2 separate regions of the Homo sapiens genome follow, and region 1 is linked to region 2. The links come from fine-mapping of genetic effects on gene expression. Tissue or cell type: whole blood. Region 2 holds a variant in brackets; the other region holds the start of a gene. All regions are shown on one strand. Distances are between the middles of the regions. Region 1 holds the start of RNF144A (ring finger protein 144A). Region 2 overlaps RNF144A (ring finger protein 144A).

Region 1 (10,706 bases), 120 kb before region 2:
GTTCTAAGTAGAATCTACGGAGCTTGCATTTGAGCCATGCATAGAAGATCCGGTTAATAAAGAACCACAGAAGATTCATTTCTTTCATTCAACAAATTTTTATGAAGTGCCTAGAACTTATCTTGCCATTGCTGGATATGATGGCAAACAAGAGAGACGCGTCTCTACTTTCTGGGAGAATGCTAGGAAAAATATCTTTACTTTTTAATTCACATGTTAATATTTTCATTTATTGTCATTTATCTTGCCACCTTTGTATAACACTTTTATTTTTATTATAACCCTTGTTCTCTAAGTTGCAGTCATGAGTAGTCACCTTCCATGCACTTGTATTAGTTTGCTAGGCCTGGTGAAACAAAGTACCACCTTCTGAGTGGCTTAAACCACAGAAATGTATCATCTCACAGTTCTGGAGGTGTATTAGGGTTCCTCAGAGACACAGAATCAATAGGATAGAGATAGATAGATAGATAGACTAGATAGATGATTGATAGATGGATAGATAGATAGATAGATAGGAGATTTATTATGGGAATTGGCTTACATAATTATGGAGGCCAAGAAGTCCCACGATCTGCCGTCTGCAAGCTGGAGACCCTGAAAAGCTGGTGGTGGAATTCAGTCAGAGGCCAAAGGGCGGAGAACCTAGGGGTGGAGTAGGGAGGGGGAAGCACGCTCTCATGTAAGTGCTGGAATCCTGAGGCCCGAGAACCAGGAGCTCTGAAGTCAGGGGGCAGGAGAAGATGGATGTGCCAGCTGGAACAGAAGGAGCATATGTGCCCTTCCTCCTGTTTGTTCGCGCTCTCCAGAGATAGGGTGATGCACGTGGGTGAGGGCAGATCTTCTTTACTCTAAGGATTCAAATGCTGATCTTGTCCAGAAACACTCTGAGAGATGCACACAGACATACTGTCTTACCAGCTATCTGGGCATCCCTTAACCCAGTCAAGCTGCCACTTAACATTAACCATCACAGGGGGCTAGAAGTCTAAGTCAAAGCTTTGGCAAGATTGGTTCCTTTTGAGGGCTGTGAGGAAGAATCTGGTCCAGGCTCCTCCACCAGCTGCCGGTGCTTTGCTGGTCATCTTTGGCATTTCTTGGCTTGTAGAAGCATCACCCAAATCTTTGACTTCAGTTCACATGGTGTTCTCCTTGTGTGTGTCTGTGTCCAAATTTCCCCTTTACATAAGGACACCAGTCATATTGGATTAAAGCCCACTCCAGTATGATCTCCTCTTAACTAATCATATCTGCAATGACCCTATTTCCAAAGAAGGTCACATTCTGGGGTACTGGGGCTTAGAACTTCAGTATACGAATTTTAAGGAGGCACAAGGTGTCCGTGACAGTGCTGTGTTAAGTGACTGGAAGGATGAATTTCCTTTTTCACTTGCACTTTCTTTCTTGAAGTTTTGTTTGAAGCTGCTTGAAGACATCTCTGCATCCTGTCTTATGTGGATGCTACTCCCACTGCAGAGATTATTCGAGAGGTTGGAAAGGTTGGAAAAGAAAGAGAGGATGCTTTTGAAGGGAGAAGGGTAAGAGTACAGACAAGGGAAGCTGTATTAGTCTGTCTGTTCCCACACTGCCAATAGAGACATGCCTGAGACTAGGTAATTTATAAAGAAAAAGAGGTTTAATGGACTCACAGTTCCACATAACTGGGGAGGCCTCACAATCACGGCGGAAGGCAAGGAGGAGCAAAGTCACAGCAGGCAAGAACATTTGCAGGGGAACTCCCCTTTATAAAACCATCAGATCTCATAAAACTTATTCACTGTCACGAGAACGGCACAGGAAAGACCCACCCCCATGATTCAGTTACCTCTCACCTGATCCCTCCCATGACATACGAGAATTATGGGAGCTACAATTCAAGATGAGATTCAGGTGGAGAGACAGCCAGACTGTATCAGAAGCTTTGCCAAGAAGACCCGGAGAGTAGCAGGAACTCTCCTCTGTTCTTTGGCATTACCCTGTGAAGGCTGTGTGGCTCACCTGGGGACTGTGCCTCTGGCAGGAAAGTCTTGTGCTGTCTGCTCCTGAGAGAAGGCATGGCTTCTGGAATGAGATGATCAGTAGCACAGATGGGCTGAAGATGAGACGTTACATTCCACATTCCCAGAACCATAATATCCCCCAGATTCCTCTGTGTCCTTAAGGAGAGAAAGTCAGAATGAGAACTGACATTTGATTTCCTGCTACTCTAGAGAAACAAGAAATGGAATTTGTTAATTTTTAAAATAAAAAAAGTGAATTTTCTATATTTATGGAATGTGTGATTACAAATTCACATAAACTTCCTTGTCTAATTTTTTTTCTTTTCTTTTTCTTTTTCTTTCTTTTTTTTTTTTTTTGAGACTGAGTTTCGCTCTTGTTGCCAGGCTGCAGTGCAGTGGTGCGATCTCGGCTCACCGCAACCTCTGCCTCTGGGGTTCAAGCGATTCTCCTGCCTTAGCCTCCCGAGTAGCTGGGATTATAGGCATGTGCCACCACGCCTGGCTAATTTTGTATTTTTAACAGAGACAGGGGTTTCTCCATGTTGGTCAGGCTGGTCTTGAACTCCCAACCTCAGGTGATCTGCCTGCCTCGGCCTCCCAAAGTGCTGGGATTACAGGCATGAGCCACCACACCCAGCCCCTTGTCTAATTTTTTAAAAAAAATTCAAGTGTGGGTCTTGAGCTTCCCTTGATTTTCTGTCTAGAAGAGAAGTGTCAGAACGGCTATCTGCTTTCCCAGCTTCTGGGCCATTTGCTGCAGCACTGAGTCGCCAGCCTGCTTCGCATGAGCAGGGAAATTTTGCCCATCTAGGTAATCAGGAAGAGCTTGTTCAATGAGTGAAGGGTGAGTCATACTGCATTGGCACAAACTCTTGGCAACAATGAGTGTCCTTTACAATGGGCTCTATGGGACAGCCCTCTGGGGGAGATGGGCCAGCCAGACCTGAGTAAGGGGCTGGACTGAAAACTGACAGTGACAGGTGGAAGTGAACTTGAGAGACCCAACAAACTTCTTGTTGGAGAGAACTAGGACAGCTGCTCAGAGGCAAAGCTCAGAGTAGAGGATTTCACTCAGTATTTATTGAGCACTTATTATGTTCAAGGCCCTAAGAGGGAATATGTAGAAAAATGCTGTTCTCTAGAATCGTAAGATCTAAGCATCAGAAAGTGAATGCCACAAACATTAAGTGTGGCAGATGCCATGATCAACACAGACAAAGACTAAGTATTACACCAGCTCAGAGATCAGAGATCTAGGGATGGGGAACTCCATGATAGGCCGGGAAGTCTTTGCAGGGAAATCTGCATCTGAGTGCCTTTTGAGGCCTGCTGCAAACAAAACTTTCAATGCCAGTGTCCCCTCTCACTATCTCCCCAACAATGGTTGCATTCACAAAGACAGAGCAGGGGAATGAAGTCACATGTATTACCACATGAGCAATTACAAGTCTCAGTTGGGTCAGGGCATTTTTGCACCTTAACTCTCTTCCTGCAGCCCCAGATGCTCCTTTGCAGTCCCCCAGCTTGAGTGTTATACGTCTGTGTTCCATGAGAATGCCTGCATCTTAATACAGACCCCTTTATTGTGGGGAACACAGCACAACGTCTGTGCATTTGCAGTCACCCACCTGTGCATCCCCTGAATCCTTCATTCATAAGTAGTACTCAACCAGGAACTTCTTTGGTATCCCAGCTCGGACACGGGAGGTGTGAATATATTTTTCATAAAGCCCAGGCCTTTATGCAGAACGATTTTCATCCTCTAGTGAGAGGCTGAAGTAACAAAGTGCTGTTGTTAAGATTCTTCCCATTGTGCATTTTTCTTGAATAATGACATTTCTAAAAAGAATCTGAAACTGAGGCATTAGAAGGCAAGTGCTCGTTCATATATTTGAAGAGGTCAAATATTTACCAGAATAACTTCTCAATACAGAGGGGACAGCTTTATTTTATTTTACTATAAAGATGTATGTGTAGCAGAAGACAAATTATGCAGAGCTTTGAGTTAGTTAAGAATCATCTGATTTAATTCTTTGGAGAAATGAGACAAATTGTAGCTAAGGACTATGGAGTTGTTTTAGTTTGCCAGTTATATTTAATTTGACTATTTCTTTATTTATTGAGAGACAAAGTCTCACTCTGCTGCCCAGGCTGGAGTGCAGTGATGCAAACACAGCTCACTTCAGCCTTGACCTCCTGGGCTCAAGCAGTCCTCCTGCCTTGGCCTCCCAAAGTGCTGGGCTTACAGGTGTAAGCCATGGCACTTGGCCTATTTGACTTGTTTAATCCCTCCGAAGAACTCATACATACTATTGCCACCTCATTTTCCACGTAAGAAAATGGAAGCACGAAGACCTTAATAACTTGCTTAATGGCTAGTAGGTGGTAGAGCTTGAATTTAGACCACACAGTGTGGAGGGTATGCTATTAAGGAAAAACGATGTTCTAGTGGGGTTTCCATTTAATATTGCAGAAAAAAGAATCTATATATTTAAGAAGGTGTTATTTCATGCACACTCGTAGGTTTTGTTCATATATGCACATCTGACGTATAATTTAACATTTGTGTAACTTCAAGCTTCTATGGGGAGTGGCAGAAGATGCAGGAATTCTATTAATACCTTCGCAGATCTTAGATTCCAACAAGCTGGATACCTTAAGAAAAATAAAGAAATTGCTGTGCTTGGATCCCAGATGTCCATTCCACCTTTTGGGACCTCCCGGGGGGCCCTCTTTTCTTCATCCTTCAAGACAAGGATAGTGGGGTGAACAGACAGACTTTCCTTGCGAGGGTTGGCTCAGGAAGGCTCTGGGCTCATCTCACAGCCGCCCCAGCGAGGGTCGGGGAGGCAGGTGCTGGCTCCGGTGGGGTCTGCGGCAGAGCAGGACTGGAGCCCAGGGCGCAGCTGCACAGCTCAACGCCGGTTCGCGCCCTGGTTTACAGCGTTGGGCTGGGTCACCCCTTCTTTCCTAGCTTGCTGCTGTGTGTTCCCTCGGTGTAGGAATCAGGGGAGTGTCTTCTGGAGGCCACTAAAGCAGGAATAGCATTTTCATGTTAGCGTGCACGGGCGGTCTCCGCAGCCCCTCCTCGTGCCGGAGCCTGTCCTGGGGCCTGCGGGGCGGCTCCGGGCCTCGGGCCGGCGCAGGCGGGCGGCAGGGGGCGCTGTGCGGCTCGGCGCGGGGGCGGGGCCGGGGCCGAGCCTCCCGCGTGCCCGGCCTCTGTGCGCGCTCGCGCCCCGCCCGCGCAGCCGCTTCTCCCCGCGCGGGCTCTCGGCAGGCGGGAGGCGGCAGGGCTGGCATTGCAGTGCGGGCCGTGCGGGCTGCGCGGGCGCGGGGAGGCGCGGGCGGCAAACTGCGGGCACCCGGCACCCCGCAGCCAGTACCGGGCGGAGGCGTCAGAGCCGCGCACCGCGGACGAGCAGGCCCAGGTAGAGTGACGCGCGTCCCCTTTGTGTCCGCATCGCCCGGGCCGGCCGCGGAGCGGGGAGGGCGGGACGCGGCGCTGCGCGGCCGGCCTTGGGGCTCGGGGCTTGCGGCCGCGCCTGCCCCGCTGGGTCCTGCCCCGGCGCCCGGTGGCAGCGGGCGGGGGGCAGCGTCCCGGGCGGGGACTCGCGGGCTCCGTTCAGAGGACGCCCGCCCTGCCCTGCCCGTGTCCCTGACCTCGTCCCTGCTCTGCTCCTGCCCTGCCCTGCCTCTCGCAGGCGGCGCCCGCGCCCCAGGGCAGTGGGCGCTTAGGGACCTGGCGTCCCCCTGCCTGCCCTGCGCGGTCGCGGGTCTGCGCTGCGGCGCGGGACAGGGCGCCCCGGGCCAGGGTCCCGCGGGCGAGCTGGCGGCGGGGGCTTTCAAGGTTCGCGGCCCCGCCCGCAGACCCTGGGGCTGGAGCCTCGGCCCCAAGAGGAGGTCTGGGAAAGGACGACGCGTCCGGGGCATCGCCACCGGCGGGGAAGGTCGGAACTGGCCAAGAGGATGCCCCGCACATCCCCTGCGCGCGGGGTCCGCGGCTGCTACTGCCCCTGGTCCCCACCGCGAGCCCTTTCCCGGGGAATGAGCCGCCGCCCGAGCCCCGGAGTTCCCTGCGGGTCTTACCCACCCCAGCCTCCGGCCGCCGACCCCAAGCCCCCTGCACTGTGCTTGGCTCCCAGCTGTTTGGTCGCTTATGCCATCCTGGAGGCTTCCTGGTCCTGGGGTGAAGGGGTGACTTCTTTACCCTAATGGTCTTCGTAGGCAGGTCTCAGGATGTCCACTCCAAAGTTCGTGGTCTTTTTTCTAGAGAATAATAATTTTTAAAATCCATTGAACTGGCCGGGCGCGGTGGCTCACGCCTGTAATCCCAGCACTTTGGGAGGCTGAGGCGGGCGGATCACGAGGTCAGGAGATCGAGACCACGGTGAAACCCCCTCTCTACTAAAAATACAAAAAATTAGCCGGGCGCAGTGGCGGGCGCCTGTAGTCCCAGCTACTCGGGAGGCTGAGGCAGGAGAATGGCGTGAACCCGGAAGGCGGAGCTTGCAGTGAGCGGAGATCGCGCCACAGCACTCCCGCCTGGGCGACAGAACGAGACTCCGTCTCAAAAAAAAAAAAAAAAAAAAAAAAAAATCCATTGAACAAACATCCTGCGCTGCCTCCTGCAGGATCAAGGCTGGGGTAACAGAGGAGTGAGGTAAGGCCCCAGGGAACTATCCCCAGTGGATCCCTGCTGCCCTGCGGTGAGAGGGGGTCTAGCTCCTGCACTAAGAGCCTGGGAAGAAAACACTTCCCGTAATGGGGCCTGGGAGATGGAAGGAGGACATGCCCCAGTGAATGGGGCTGGGGTTGAGAGTTGAGCCTGGCAGATAAGATGGATTTGTAAATGAAATGCCAGGTAGAAAGTAAGTTGGTGTAGACGCCTGTGGAGCTGTGGGAGCCCCCAGGAGGGAAGGGAGGGAGTCAGGGTGTCCCTGCAAAGGGAGTCCCCTTTGCAAGGGAGGGGGTGTCTGAGTCAAAGCTTGCAGGTGGGGCAGGTCAGAGGTGGCAGGAAGGGCCTCTGTCCAGAGAGAGCTGCTCCAGCGCAGGAAGGGGGAGGGACAAGGTGTGTGACACCGTGAACTTTCCCAGGGGATTCACCCAGTGGCTCCAAAGGAGACAACAGCCTTTTTTATTGTATTCTCTTCTCCGGTACTGAGATTAGGGAACCTTGTTTTTTGCACTTTTCTAATGCCTTTTACATTTTTGTTTTTATTTTTAAAGCGTGCAAAGGAAATGTGACTAGAGGGGTCAGAAGAGGATAAATCATGAAATCTTTGAATTCTAGGCCAAGACTTTGGGTTTGACTCTGTGTCAGTGGGAGCCATTGATGGTTTTGGAGGAGGAGGGTGATCTGAGCCCTGCTTTAGAGTGATTTCCGCGGTGTTGCGTGGAAGGGAAGGCATGGTGTGGTGTGCCTTACTGTGGCTTCCGAGTCAGACCCCCACTGGCTGTGGGCTTCCACCTGCATCAGGCATCAAAGGCTGTGGATGGATTGAGGACCTCATGAGAAAATGGGTGCAAATAACCCAATTTTAATGGGATGGAAATTTTCCAGACCCAGTGCAATTTGATTTTTGCAGTTTGTGTTTTTAAAGAGCTCCCGATTCTAATGTCAGCAACTCTGGAAGAGGAACTAATGAAGGGCAAACTCAAATGCACGATGCAGGCACCCCCAGGTCATCTGTGCCATGAGGATTTGGGAAACTCAAAGAGCATTGTAAAATGCATATATTTTATAAATAGATTCCAGTGCCCTCAGCTTGCTAGTTGGTAATCCCTGTATCCAGACTGTTGCTAGAGTAAGTCACGTCTCCTGGGGATTCAGTGTGGTTTGGGACTTTGAAGGGACCTCACACTGTTTGGCTGAAGCTGCTGAGGTTCAGGGGTAGAAGTGCCACTCTGGCAGGCGGCGGCAGGGTTGGGAGCTACAAGCTACGTTGCCTGCCTCTGAGAACATTCTTTCCCCTGTGGTCCACCACGTGGCCCCACTGCCTACTTTTGTTCACATTTCTCCCTCCTGGAAGCCTTTCCCTCTGGGGGTAGAGATGGGAAGGAAGCCTGCCCTTGGAGACTGACAATCACAGAACCAGGTGGGCCAGCACCCACCTGGCCTATGAACCCTTGTTGTAACCATGGGAACCTCGTAGCTTGGAAAGGAGGGGTCAGGTAGCCCAGGCCACATGAAAAGCTGTGGCTGGTCCAGCCCTGGCATCAGCTTTTCTGGTTCTGTCTGCTGTCCCTTTTTTCCCATACCTCACTTGCAATAGAAGAGGATGAAGCCGTGCTCGCTGCCCTGCACGTTGGGTGGTCTGGAACCATTCAGGATGATATTGAGCCCTCAGACTCTCTTAGAGCAAGGAACCCCTGGCTTCACAGGATGTGGGATCTCAGAGGCAGCCCAGAGGCGGGGAATGGAATGGAGTGCTTCTAAGGAAGAGGGACTCTCCGTGTTTTCTCTGGGGAATTTTCTAACATTGAGATCGAAGAATGAAGTTGGAGGTGCCTTTCTTTTCTTTAAGAAGTAATCATTTCCAAGACTAGCCTCCTTTCTCCGTTGTTTCTGCATTACTGAAACACATGAATACCCTTTCTTAGTTAGATGAAGAAATTAAATTGAAGCCACTGCTCACATACCTGCTGGGTAGTGGGGCTGAAGGATAGAGCTTATTACAATTTCCTGACCCAGCTGTCTGGCCCTGGGCCAGCGTCTTAACCTCCCTGGATGGCTCCAGTTTTTTGAGGATAAAACTGAGGTGTTGGTGTAAATATTTTCCAAGATCCAGAAATAAAAATGTACTGTTGGATCATATTTTTTTTCCAGGAGAATAAATATTACAGGACGACTCACCAAGTACAACCATTCGTAAGGGTTTGTTTGTTTCCCAAGAGAAAATATTTTAACTTTCAGAAGAGTGGATTTTTTCCAAAGTGAAATGGTGAGAAATGAAGCTTTGAGGAGGGTGGCTCATTGCTGATAGGAGCCTTCACCTTGCTTCACTCCACAAATAACCCAAGACCTGAATTTAAAGGTGCTTACTTCCTGGATGTTCCGTAGAACTGGAAGGCAGGCTTTCTCTAAGGAGCAGGCTTATAAGCTGGATGCAGTGTTCCAGACAAAAGCAAGCTCCTTGGTGGCATGCAGTGTGTCAACCAGTATTTTATCATCTCAGGTGTGTTTGGCACTAGAGGTGGAGGAGGTGGTTGATACTCATTATGGATTTGCCTGATCTTCAGGGCTTTGCTTGCATCGTGGATGCAGTTCTCACACAGCCCTGCAGCACAGGCGTATGTTGCTATCCCTAGCTGACAGAGGAGCAGAGTGAAGCAGAGAGCAGGGATGTTGTCCAACATCGCACACACGTCGTCAATTTTGAAGCCTGGCTTTGAACCCAGAGGCCTGCAGATAAGGATAGATCCCATGACCTTGAGGAGGCTGTAGTCTAGGGAGCGGGAAGCTCAAACATTAACAGATTGAACCGTGGGGTCAGGGCAGCATGGGAGGTCAGGGCAGAGAGCAGTGGGACCCACAGGAGGGTGCCTGGATCAGCCCCGGGTGGCAGGGAGGCTGCCTGCTGGGGCGATGCTGTTGGTCTGGGATGGGAGGGACGGGTCAGAGTTAGCTAGGCAAATTAAGAGGGACAAGGTCACATTCTGGGCCTGGGAACAGCAAGAAACAGCCTGGGGTGGACAGGGAACTTAGGACCAGCACACAGGGCCGAGCTCCCCAGCTGCCTTACCATTGGCCTTTTTAGGGTGGCTGGTGGTCTCTGAGCTGTTTGGACCCAGATTTCCGTGTGTAATACAGCCGCTTTCATTACTGGCATCTCCTGGAAGGTCCCATCAGTGCATTTTCCTTTTCACTGTTTTGTTTTGGAGCGTCTTTCCCTATCTGTGTTCCCTCCATTTCCTTTCCTCCTCCTCCAGTTCTACCTGGTGGGAGAGTGAGTTCAGGGAAAGATCAGGGGAACCACCCATAGCGACCATTGTTTTTACAGTCAGTCACCTTGCTCCCATGTCTTCCGAGTGACCCATAGTTGACTGGGGCCAGCGAACTAGACATTAGCCCCGTGCATGTGCTGGATATGGCCGTGCAGGCTCTGGGGGCTTCTGCCTATGGGAGCCTGTGGGAGCAAAAGGGAAGGGTTCCAAGTCCTGAAAGTGGATGTTGTCAGAGTCTCTTTATTGATTGAACGGGCTTTTGTGTCTGTCCAAGGACTGTGCACATCTCTTACAACATTGTGTTCCTGGGAATACTTTTTAGGTTTCCCAAGAACTGCTTTCAGGTAATTCTGTGGAGCAGGGCATGTTTATTGTTGATGCATGGTGTGTTAAGGTCCTCTGGAGGGCAGAGGAGTGCAGAATGCAGCAAGCTTGACTGCCTCCTGCGAGCCATGCAGAGGGGACCCGCCCGGTTTTTCTTGTTTTTCTTTTTTTTTTTTTTTTGAGATGGAGTCTCACTTTGTCGCCCAGGCTGGAGTGTAGTGGTGCAATCTCAGCTCACTGCAAGCTCCGCCTCCTGGGTTCACGCCATTCTCCTGCCTCAGCCTCCCGAGTAGCTGGGACTACAGGCGCCCGCCGCCACACCCTGATAATTGTTTGTATTTTTAGTAGAGACGGGGTTTCACTGTGTTAGCCAGGATGGTGTTGATCTCCTGATCTCATGATCCGCCCGCCTCGGCCTCCCAAGGTGCTGGGATTACA
Region 2 (10,706 bases):
TTAGCCAAAGGATGGTATTTACGAAAGCCAGCTGATTACTGATCTTCTGTATTCACATGCATCCGTGGAGGGGTGCACAGTGATAGTTTCAGAGACTGAGCCGAAGGACCAGGTGTTCCTTCCAGAAATGCTTATGTCCTGGAAGCCACATGCAGTGACTGTTCTAAGGGTATTTCTCACTGAGATCAGTGAAATAGGCACGATCTATCTCTTGTACTTACACCAGGATGCTAAGCTCTGTCTGTTTTAAACAAATATTGGACCTCTGGAATAGCTTTTTGGGTATAGATTTTGCATCTGTGAAATGAGAAAATTAGACTGGATTATAATCCAGGGATCAAATATGATACTGTGATTCTGAACTTGTCTGTGCCACCTTCAGTTACCTAGTTTCAGTGAATTAATAGTGTTCCATTCACCTTACCAGATCTCAGATTTTGGCTTAGTTTTCCAAGCCCTTGAATGTGGTTTGTACAAGAATTCTCTGGGGGCAGCCATTCAGAACCTTGTCAGTTTCAACTGGCTCGTCCCATAAACCTGGGTCGGACATTGATTATGAGAGGTGCCGGGCTGTGCATGGGAACTTAGAATGGTTTGCAGAAAGAGTGTTCTGGCTTTAAGTAGCACACATCTAAGAAACTTCATGGGAAGGGGTAACTGTTCCTTTAAATCTTAGGGTTTGCCAGTACGAACGAAGCTGTGCTGTACAGATTCTCTCTGGAGCCTGAAACTGTTTACCCATCCCTCTGCCTTCTGTGATCAAGTATCTGACACACATCCACAGCACACACACACAGTGGTTCTTTTTGCTTTGTGATATTTGCTTCCTGTCTCATTTTTTACTGCTGGCTGCGTAACTGGCAGTACCTGCATCTGCCTGTCACCAATTGGCAATACGTTGGGTAACCCGGCTTCTCAAACAGCAGGCAAATTTAGAGACGAGGTAGACTGAGTGAAAAGCGAAGATGGTGTGTGATTGGCTAAGAATGTGATCATTTGGTCCAGGATTTTGGCATTATTTTGACTGCAAAGAATGTGTGGCTCTTTCAAGACTGACAGTTGTGTGCCAGGTAGTCGAGGTTGCTCAAAATTTCCCTTCAAATAGGGTAGAGCTTACTGCATGTTTTATGCCTTCTGCATATCAGCGTGCACGTGATTTCAGTAAAGCACAACCTGAATTCACACTGGGTAGTTCCACCGTTGATATGTTGTTCAGACAAATGAACGTAGCCAGCTGGGCAGCAGGCATGGATTCCCAGCATTAGCACAATCCAATGTATAAATGCAATGTGGCATAATTTATTAAATGCAATCTAATTTATACACGTATGCACGTACGTGTGCATGTGTTGGTGTTGATTTTCAGGAGAAATCTCAGTCGAGGTATACTTTGTTCCACACATCTGGGATGCTTTAGTAGAGTCTCATATTTTAGGGCTGATAATGGCCCGTAAAGATCTTTTACTTCATTTGTTTATTTTATAGATGAGAAAACAGACCCAGGGAGAAGTGAAGGCTGAGTTGGAATGAGAACCATGTGCTGGTGCTTGCATTTACTGGCCACACTGAACACTAGGTGGCGGTCTAGCCCTGTCCTCGCTCTCATTTCTGCAGGCTGCCTGCCTGGGTTGGGACTCTGTGAATGGCGAGGCCGGCTGGAAAGCAGGCTCTGTGCCTCTTTGACCAGCCATGCCGCCTGACTCAGATGATGGCATGTCTGCATTTGAGGCTTATTTCTTTTGGCCTTTACTCATAACTAGGGATAAACATGTTTTCAAGCAAAAATCAAAATACGTAACAGTCAGTATTGGGCTTTAGACTCCAGGAAGGACAGGGGGCCAGGTCATTCTCTGATGCACCATGCCTGTGTCTTTTCTGTTTTCTCGTCGGAAATGCACTATTCCAGTCTTTCTTCTGTAGTAACAACCTGCTTGTCTCCATTATCTCAGCCACCTGCCATTGGAAACCCTCCTTTCCCCTAGCAAATGGTGTCTGTCACTCACATGGCGGGGGTGTGTGGGGCTGCACCCCTGGAACCTGATGGCAGTTTCTGTAGAATGTCTTGTTATCAGTTGATTAGATCTTGGTCTTTTTCTGCCAGACAGGGTGTTCCTCGAGGGCCAAGATGTATGCACCTCTGTATTTGCAGTGTCAAGTGCAGTGTCTGGGTCAGGGTGGCTGCTGAGAGGAAACTTGTTAGTTAATAGGATATATAGATGTATGGATGTTTGGGTGTTTAGATGGAAAAGGGTGGAGAGAGAGAAGGAAGGGAAAGGAAGAGGTGGAAAAGAAGAATGAGGGAAAAATGAAGGGAAGAATGTATAGTCGGTGGATGGATATATAGTGGGCAGATGAGTGGGTGGGTGGGTAGATGGTGGGTATATGAATGGAAGGGTATAGACTGGTGAATTGATGGGCAGATGGATGATGGTTAGATGGATAGATGGGTGGATGGGTGGATGGATGGGTAGATGGGTGGATAGGTGGATGAATAAAGAGATGGGTGGGTGAGTGGGTGAATGGGTGGATGGATGCATGGATGATGGATGGATGGATAGATGGATGAGAGTGGATGGATAGATGGATGATGGTTAGATGGATAGATGCGTGGGTGATGGCTAGGTATTGATGGGTGGGTGGATGGTTGGATGGATGGGTAAATGGATGGGTGGATGAGTAGATAGATGGATGGGTAGGTGGATGGATGGAGAGAGAGATGTATGATGGTTAATGGATGAATGGGTAGATGATGGTTAGATGGGTAGATGGATGGATGGATAGATGGATGGGTAGGTGGATGGATGGATAGAGAGATGGATGATGGTTAATGGATGAATGGGTAGATGATGACTAGATGGGTAGATGGATGGATGGATAGATGGATGGGTAGGTGGATGGATGGAGAGATGGATGATGGTTAATGGATGAATGGGTAGATGATGGTTAGATGGGTAGATGGATGGATGGATAGATGGATGGGTAGGTGGATGGATGGATAGAGAGATGTATGATGGTTAATGGATGAATGGGTAGATGATGGTTAGATGGGTAGATGGATGGATGGATAGATGGATGGGTAGGTGGATGGATGGATAGAGAGATATATGATGGTTAATGGATGAATGAGTAGATGATGACTAGATGGGTAGATGGATGGATGGATAGATGGATGGTTGGGTGGATGGATGGATGGATGGATGGGTAGCTGGTTGTGTGGTTTACACTTTAGCTCTGGAACCTACAGACCAGCCCTCCTTACCTCTACCCCTTTGTTTCTTTCTTCCAGGTTGTGGGCATTTTTGCAGGATTTGGGCTGCTGCTCTTGGTGGCCTCACCTTTCCTACTCCTGGCCACTCCCTTTGTACTTTGCTGCAAGTGCAAGTGCAGTAAAGGTGACGACGACCCGTTACCCACCTAGAGGAAGCGCGATGCTGGAACACATCCCTGCCTCCGGGAAGTGTGGCTCTCCCCCAACCCTCCCCACCGTCCCCCCTTCACTAAACATCTTTCTTGCCTTATGTGCCCCATTGAGCTTCACAGTGTCAGGCTGGACGCCGTGATTTCAGGGACCTATGTCACAATGTTCGCTGAGGCCCCAGGTGTGGTGGGGAGGGGAGGCAGGTGTGGGTAGCGCACATCCCCACAGATCAATCTCTGCAGATGACAGGGAGGTGCTGTGAGAAGTGCACCAGGCAGCTTTCTCTCTGTGGTAGACTAGGCATGTCTGGGGATGGCCTAAGAGACTTTCTGCTCCTTGGCTTCTAGATGGCACCATGTTGTCAGAGAAGTCTTTTAAGGACTGCCACTCTCTTCAGACAGAATCTGATTATTCCAGCTTGAGAGAAGCACTCTGTTTATGACAACTGTTTTTATTACTAATGGCATTTAGTAAAATCCTTTTTAGAAGGTATTTTTTTTCCAACTGAGTAGTGAAAATCAACAAGGTGCATATAAACCATCCTATGCCTTTCTTGAAATGTGCATTTTAAGAAGTTATAGTTAAACGACTTTTCAGGAGATTTAGAAAGCCTTATGCACTCTTTGTGTTTTTCTTGAAACTTGCTGTAGTAACTTTTTGAACGCTGTAAGCTGTGTACTGTTATAAGTGTGCTTCCTATATTGTTGCATTTCCTTGATAATATTGACGTGTTTAAAGGAACATCTCATCTCCATTAGATTTGCCTTTTGTTGTTTTCTCTCTTTGGTGATTCAGCTCAGCTCATGGGCCTCATCCCTTCTCTCCCAGGTAGCAGAAAACGCTTTTTATTGTATTCAATCCCACTGCTTTGCTCGGCAATGGTTCTCCTCCGAATTGCTGCCGTCTGGCCTCTGGCCTCAGTCTTCAGATAGACAGTAAGAAGAAAGCAGCCTCATTGATCCGCAGATGTAGGGGCCTCTTGGCAGAGGCTGGAGGACTCTGGGGGCTAGGGAAGAGCCTGCCAGATTTTCACATTTTTAAAATGTTCTAGTCATTTTGAGAAATCATATATCTTACACAGTTCCAAGTCCTGTTGCTAACCGTTTTGCTCTTGTTGGGGAAAAGAACCTCCCATTTCACTTCGTTTTAACGTGGGGATTTTACCACTTGATCTTTTACAGGGCTGTCTGTGACCATTTCCATGGCAGCAGGATGCAGGGATTAATAAGGACACATACACATTATTCCACCAATTGACTTTGAAAAGTGGAGAAAGTGTATTCTTTAAAGAGAATTTACTTCTAAAAGCCACAGGTGCTTTTACAAAGCAAACTGCATTGAATTTAAAACTTCTAAAAATAACAGGCAAATATTGTAGCTATATTACAGTGGGATTTTAAAAATCTTGTTAAACATTCTATAAAGAAGTAAAACAAAATCCTTTTATCTCAGTTATTTGCCCATCACAAGCACATTTTTAAAATGTTGCTTTGTGTGTGTTTGACTTCTGCATTTGAGTATCAGTCTCAGGTCCTAGTTTACTTTCCCTGGTTGGAAATTTATTTCTTATTTCCTAACATTGAATTCGTTAGAAAAAACAGCGTCACCTCACTCTTCACCTGTCATGTTGATTTTCCTTATGAACCCGAAGCCATTTAGAAAATCCCT[G/A]TGTGTCAAAATTACATTCAAAAAGCTCTCCTTGTAATTGCAAGTTTAGTAACTCAGTAAGAACATGCCTGCGACTCCCTTTCTGGATGGAACCTGGGCTGTGGCTCTCTGTCGTTTGTGGTGCTGTGATGGTGTCTACTGTTAGAATAGCTTTTCTGGAGGTGGGTGGCAACTCCACGCGGGAGTCATTGGCTGGGCTTGAGCCCTCAGCCTGTGATATGTGGATGCAGCTGTCCAGCCACTGCCCTTTAACATGCCCAGCACACATGGGAGGCCTGTGGCCCTGTGTCCAGTGGCCCACAGGACACGCCTCCACCATATGCTCATCCTTCCTGCCTGAAATTGCTGCTGCCCATCGCATGAGCCCACACAGTAGCACCCCCGTCCTTAGGATGAGAGTCAGAGCCTTTGGAAAGGCTGCATCCCCAGGGCTAGAGCTCAGATGACCTTATTTCTAGAGGGACAGGCTGTTCTGTTGGAAGAGTCTCTGGCCCAGTCATGCACATCTGTAGCCCCAGCCATCCTTGTGCCTTCACCTCTGATGTGTTTCACAAGCACGTAGTTCAACCCAGATAGGGACCACAGAGATTCTGGGGCCAGCCAGGGGCAGTCAAATTGGCACCTACTGGCTCTGACTTTTTGTATGAAGCATGCCTCAGTTTCCTCATTTTGATCTAGATATAAAATTAAAATTGTCCATTTCCTATATAAATACCAGCAAGATCACTCTGAGATACATAAACTCGCATTTCCTTCTGTTTTAGTAAGGAGTGCCAGACTTATCTTTGATGGGAATACAGTATGAACCCTGCTTGATGTAAAATGGAAATAGCACACAGGCAGATGGCCCTGGGTTTGGACTTTGATCTTGCCATCATTCCCCAGTAAAACCTGGGGAGTTCTGCGTTGAGTGGACGGACTTATTCCTGTGAAGCGGCATAATTTGTCTCCATTGAAAAATGGCATTCACTCTTACAGATGGTGTTCACTGCAAGCCCCAGAAGCATATGGCATGTGTTCACTAAGAGGCCTTTAATCCTGGGGAGTAAGGGGCGAAGGCCCTTAGACAACCATGGCTGCTGTACTGCCGCCCAGGGTGGGTGGCCAGTGAGGACTGGCCTTAGCCCAGTGGACCTGTGGCTTCTCTGAGGCCCTTGAGTAACTGACCACATTTGGAGGTTTTGCTGGAAATGCCTGACCTCTCAGTCTGGCTCTGCTGTGTAGTCCATAGCCCAGCCAGATGAGCTTGCAGCCTCATAGGAGGTCAGCACCTTGCAAAGATGCAGTCACCATAGATGTCCACGTAGCAGAGACTGACTTAGGATCTGAGATAAAGCATCGGATTGCAGGAATAACTGTCCAAATTAGTTCTTCCTCCTCAACTCATAGGAGTAGCTGTGGACAGAGGAACCAACATCTGCCACCTCTGGCATTTTCTTTCTTTTTTTTTCTTTTTGAGACGGAGTTTCGCTTTTGTCCCCCAAGCTGGAGTACAATGACAGGATCTCGGCTCACTGCAAGCTCTGCCTCCCGGGTTCAAGCGATTCTCCTGCCTCAGCCTCCCAAGTAGCTGGGATTACAGGCACCCACCACCTCACCCAGCTAATTTTTGTATTTTCAGTAGAGACGGGGTTTCACCATGTTGGCCAGGCTACTCTCAAACTCCTGACCTCAGGTGATCTGCCCACCTCGGCTTCCCAAAGTGCTGGAATTACAGGCCTGAGCCACCCCACCCGGCCTATTTTCTTAAAGGGGAACAAATGATCTTGACAACATATTATTCCATAAAACCAGTTTAGGGCACAGGCCAGTTCCTGATTAGAACACAGGACCTGTGGGAGGGACTATCAGAGATGCAAAAATTACTTCAAGATGAGTTTATTGTTTTCATTTGTATTGCAAAAGTTAGAAGTCATTTTACAAATTAAAAAAACATTTTTTTCTTGGTAGTCTTTAAAAATTAGGGGATTGAAAGGATCCAGGATGGGCTTTGTGTGTGTGTCTCAGATTCTCATTTATTAGTGAGCACACCTGTGTATATATATAAATCACAAGGAGATCATCAAGGGAAAACATTTTGCATGTGTAAAGCTTCATGAAGTTCTCTTTAAAAAATACCAAAGCTTGTTTATTTCTGATAATTAACCTAAGCCCTTATGAAAATAAACAAAATGAAGGGATTATGACAGGTATTACCAAAAACACCAAAAGGAACAAAGGGGCCTGCGTTAAAACCTAATTGCTAATGCTTCACAACTAGGAGAGCATGCCGTCTTGATGTTTAAAAAACCCAGGGTCTCCACCCTTCCTTTGATTTGTGCAATTCTGTCTTCCACAGTTCCGGAGCCTTCAGTGAGGGGTAGCTACATGCCCCATGCCTGCCCTTTCTTTCCTTCTTTGCTCACTTTACTATGGGTGTATTTTAATCTTGTATAAAAATATGCATGAATGAGTCATGCACATGTATACGTTATGTATTTGACAAGTGGTGGTGAAACAAAATCAAAACAGATTTGATTTGTGTTTTTGAAATGTCAGTACATTTTGTGCCACTAACACTGTGATGTATAAAAGAGCTGTTTGAATGCCTTTTAATGTTGTGTTTTGTACTCTGGAATCATATGGAAAAAGTTTGATTTGTAATTTCAATACATATTTTAAATGTATTGTGTCTTACGTAGTTTGTCCCCCCCTTTAGCAGGGATTCCTTTTTAAAGCTATTTTGGCTGGAATACAGGTGACTTTTGTAAACCCCGCGTGGCTCCGTCTTTTGTAGATGCTTATCTGACTACTGGCCTGAAGATGGAAAATATTCTATCTTCAGTCTTCAATATTTAATCTATTGAAGATTGAAAATATTCAATGTGGGAACTGGGGGTGGAGGGAGAAAGGGTGAGGCAGGGGAGGGATCTTATATCACTGGGAAAACAGCTCTTGTATCCTGAGATTTTCTGTTTTAGGAATGTTCTCAACTCCTAGATGCCAAAATTACTTGGTTTGTTGGGTGTATCAACCCGTCCAGCCATTCCTGGCTCCCTCTTGTGGTGCCCAACCGGTACTGCAGCATCAGGAAGCATCTCATCCCCACTCAGGGCGCTCTGCTTCCATCCGCAAAGACAAGTTCCTTACAGACCTGTCACATTTTATGAGTTGCAGCATGAAAATCAGGAGGCATCCTTTATCTGCTGGGGGTGGGGAGAAAGTGGAATAAATATGGATCCTTCTCATTTCGTAGGAGAGATAATAATGAGCTGAAGATGTGGTGGTTCACCTTGATTTTCATTCACCTCACTCCAGCTTGGAGGAGAATCTATACCTCATGCGTTCATATGATGCTCAAGTCTGGAATAGGCAACTGGTTCCTTGTCCTGTGTTTAAGTTTTAAATCCATTCTTTATATCTACAGGTGCACATTAAGGGAGTGGATTTTGTTAACTGGTGATTCATAGTGGGCACTGAAGACTCAATATATCTGCCCTCAAGGAGCTCTTAGTCTCAAGGGGTTGACAGATAAGTCAGTCAATTATCATAAGAAGGTGGAATAAGTTCAATGGTAGACGCACGCTCAGCAGGCTTTGCGGGCACAGCACAGCCCTTCGGCCAGGCCGGAAGGTCAGGGAAGGCTGTCCAGAGGACGCCATGTATGAGCTCGCTCTTGTAGACAAGTAGGAACTAGCCAAGCAAAACTGAGAAGTGTGTTCAAAGGAAGGGCCCAGTTCAACAAGCGCACAGAGTTTGGTCCAACTGGCGTGTCGGGGTTGGAGAGTTACTCAAATGTCTGACCTGGTGGGGGCACAGTGTGCCGAACTCAGGAACTGGACCTTCATGATAAAGGCTGTGTGGGAGGAGTGAGTTAGGGTCCTAGGGCTGCTGTCACAAAGGACCACACACCAGGGGCTACAACAACAGAGCTTTACTGTCTTCCAGGTCTGGAGGTTGGAAACTGAAGGTTCAGGTATCTGCAGGGCTGGAATCTTCTGAGAGCGGTAAGGAGGATGCCCGTGTTGCTCTGCAACTTCCTGGTACTGCTGGCAGTCCTGGGTGTTCCTTGGCTGGTAGATGCACCCCCAGTCTCTGCCTGCAGGTTCCCACGGCGTTCTCCCTGTGTGCACGCCTGTGGACACAGCTCCTTCATCTAAGGGCAAAGTCATATTGGATTAGAGCCTACCCTGATGACCTCATCTTCACTCGATCATCTGCAAAGACCCTATTTACAAATAAGGTCAAGTTCACAGGTTCTGGGGGTTAGGCTTCAACACTTTTTGTGGGAAACACAACTCACCTCCATAGGAGGGAGCACGGACTCTGAGTGGGCTGTCTGGCCCCAGGGAGGTCAACCAGAGAAGGTGGACGGGTACAGCAGGTGGCGGGGCTCCGTTGCCGGTGGTGCTGCCTCAGGTGCAGTCCAGAAGCAGTTCTTCCCTACGCTGGGTTGCACATCAATTCTTGAAGCGGGCCTGGAATGTAGGAATTGCCCCCCAGAAAACACTGCCAAAAAACAATGATGGTTAAGCAAAATAAATCCATATTTCTGTGTCTACCTAGGTACATATATTTGTTTCTAAAAATTGAAAAAGAAATTTGCCAGCAAAGAGTCTTATCAACTCTTAGAGGAACCCAAATTACAGGGCATAGAAGGTGGGAATGGCACAGACTTTGATAGCATGTGCTTATCTAGAAGGTATTCTAAACTTGACTTGTTTGCAGGAGGTACATGAGAGATTATAACTGCTGATGTGGCTCGACCACAAGACAGTGTCCATTACTCAGCTCAGCTCAGCTCATCTCTGTCTATACCAGTGAGCAACTCAGCCATTTAAAAACAGCAATTGCTGCCCACGACCTGGTGTTGGCTACTCGCTCTTCTCTAGCTAAAGTCACCCAGGATGTGCATTTTCGGATGAAGCCAACATCGAATGGGGCCCAGAGCAGCAGGGTGGAGAGCTGCAGTGGCTGCTATAGCCAGGGAAGGCTGGAGCCACATCGCAGGAGGGTGACTTCCCGTGCATGTGACAGCCTGGGAGCACCTGTTTCCTGTTTGAACATTGGGATAAAAAGTCTTGCACAGGATTTTTCTGAGGATAAATGAGGAAATGACAAGTAAAACATAGAGTACATTTTGGTGATAAAATATTAAGTTGCTCATGCAGTTCCACTGTGAATGTGGATGAGGCTCCCAACAAGGGTACCCACTCAGCACTCCTGCTTCAAGCACAGAAGGACCCTCTTCCCTCCTGTTTTCCTTGTAGGACCTGAGAAACGAACAGCTCACATCATGGCTCATGCTACCCAGGGGTGCAAGGAAGTGGTTGTGCGTACAGCCTGTGGTTAATGCAAAGAAAAATGGAGTCAATATTTTCATATTGGAAAATCTGAATTTGCAGTATCAAAAGTCATTCACTTGTTCTCCTAGGCAACTATCTGGGTCTTTTTAAAATATATTTTTATTTATTCTTATTTTTTCTCACTGACTTAACAGAATTCATTCAGAACGTGAGTACATGTGATGTGTTTTTTACTGCACAAGAAAGATCCAACAAGGGGTAGTCTCTTCTCACTTCTCAGAATTTATCAGCTTATCACAACTTTTATGAAAAGCCCAAAATGCAAAAGGGAATAA

Evidence for each region.
Region 1: it holds the start of RNF144A, and the variant in region 2 is fine-mapped to the expression of RNF144A in whole blood (TOPMed, PIP above 0.99).

Annotation. Positions count from the first base shown.
Region 1 is chr2:6,912,195-6,922,900 of GRCh38, forward strand. It overlaps RNF144A (ring finger protein 144A), which reads left to right and starts at 5,218. Exons shown (of 9, transcript NM_014746.6): 1 at 5,218-5,428. GRASLND (glycosaminoglycan regulatory associated long non-coding RNA) reads right to left here and starts at 6,488. Exons shown (of 5, transcript NR_033997.1): 1 at 6,208-6,488; 2 at 4,656-5,030; 3 at 3,629-3,773; 4 at 1,999-2,156; 5 at 82-1,470. RefSeq lists a silencer at 5,058-5,547.
Region 2 is chr2:7,036,343-7,047,048 of GRCh38, forward strand. RNF144A (ring finger protein 144A) reads left to right here. Exons shown (of 9, transcript NM_014746.6): 9 at 3,287-7,837. The coding sequence ends at 3,418. Among named protein-coding and RNA genes, the nearest start is that of GRASLND, 120 kb to the left of the region's middle. RefSeq lists an enhancer at 1,416-1,710 and a silencer at 7,736-8,030. The variant G/A (reference allele first, on the strand shown) is at 5,087.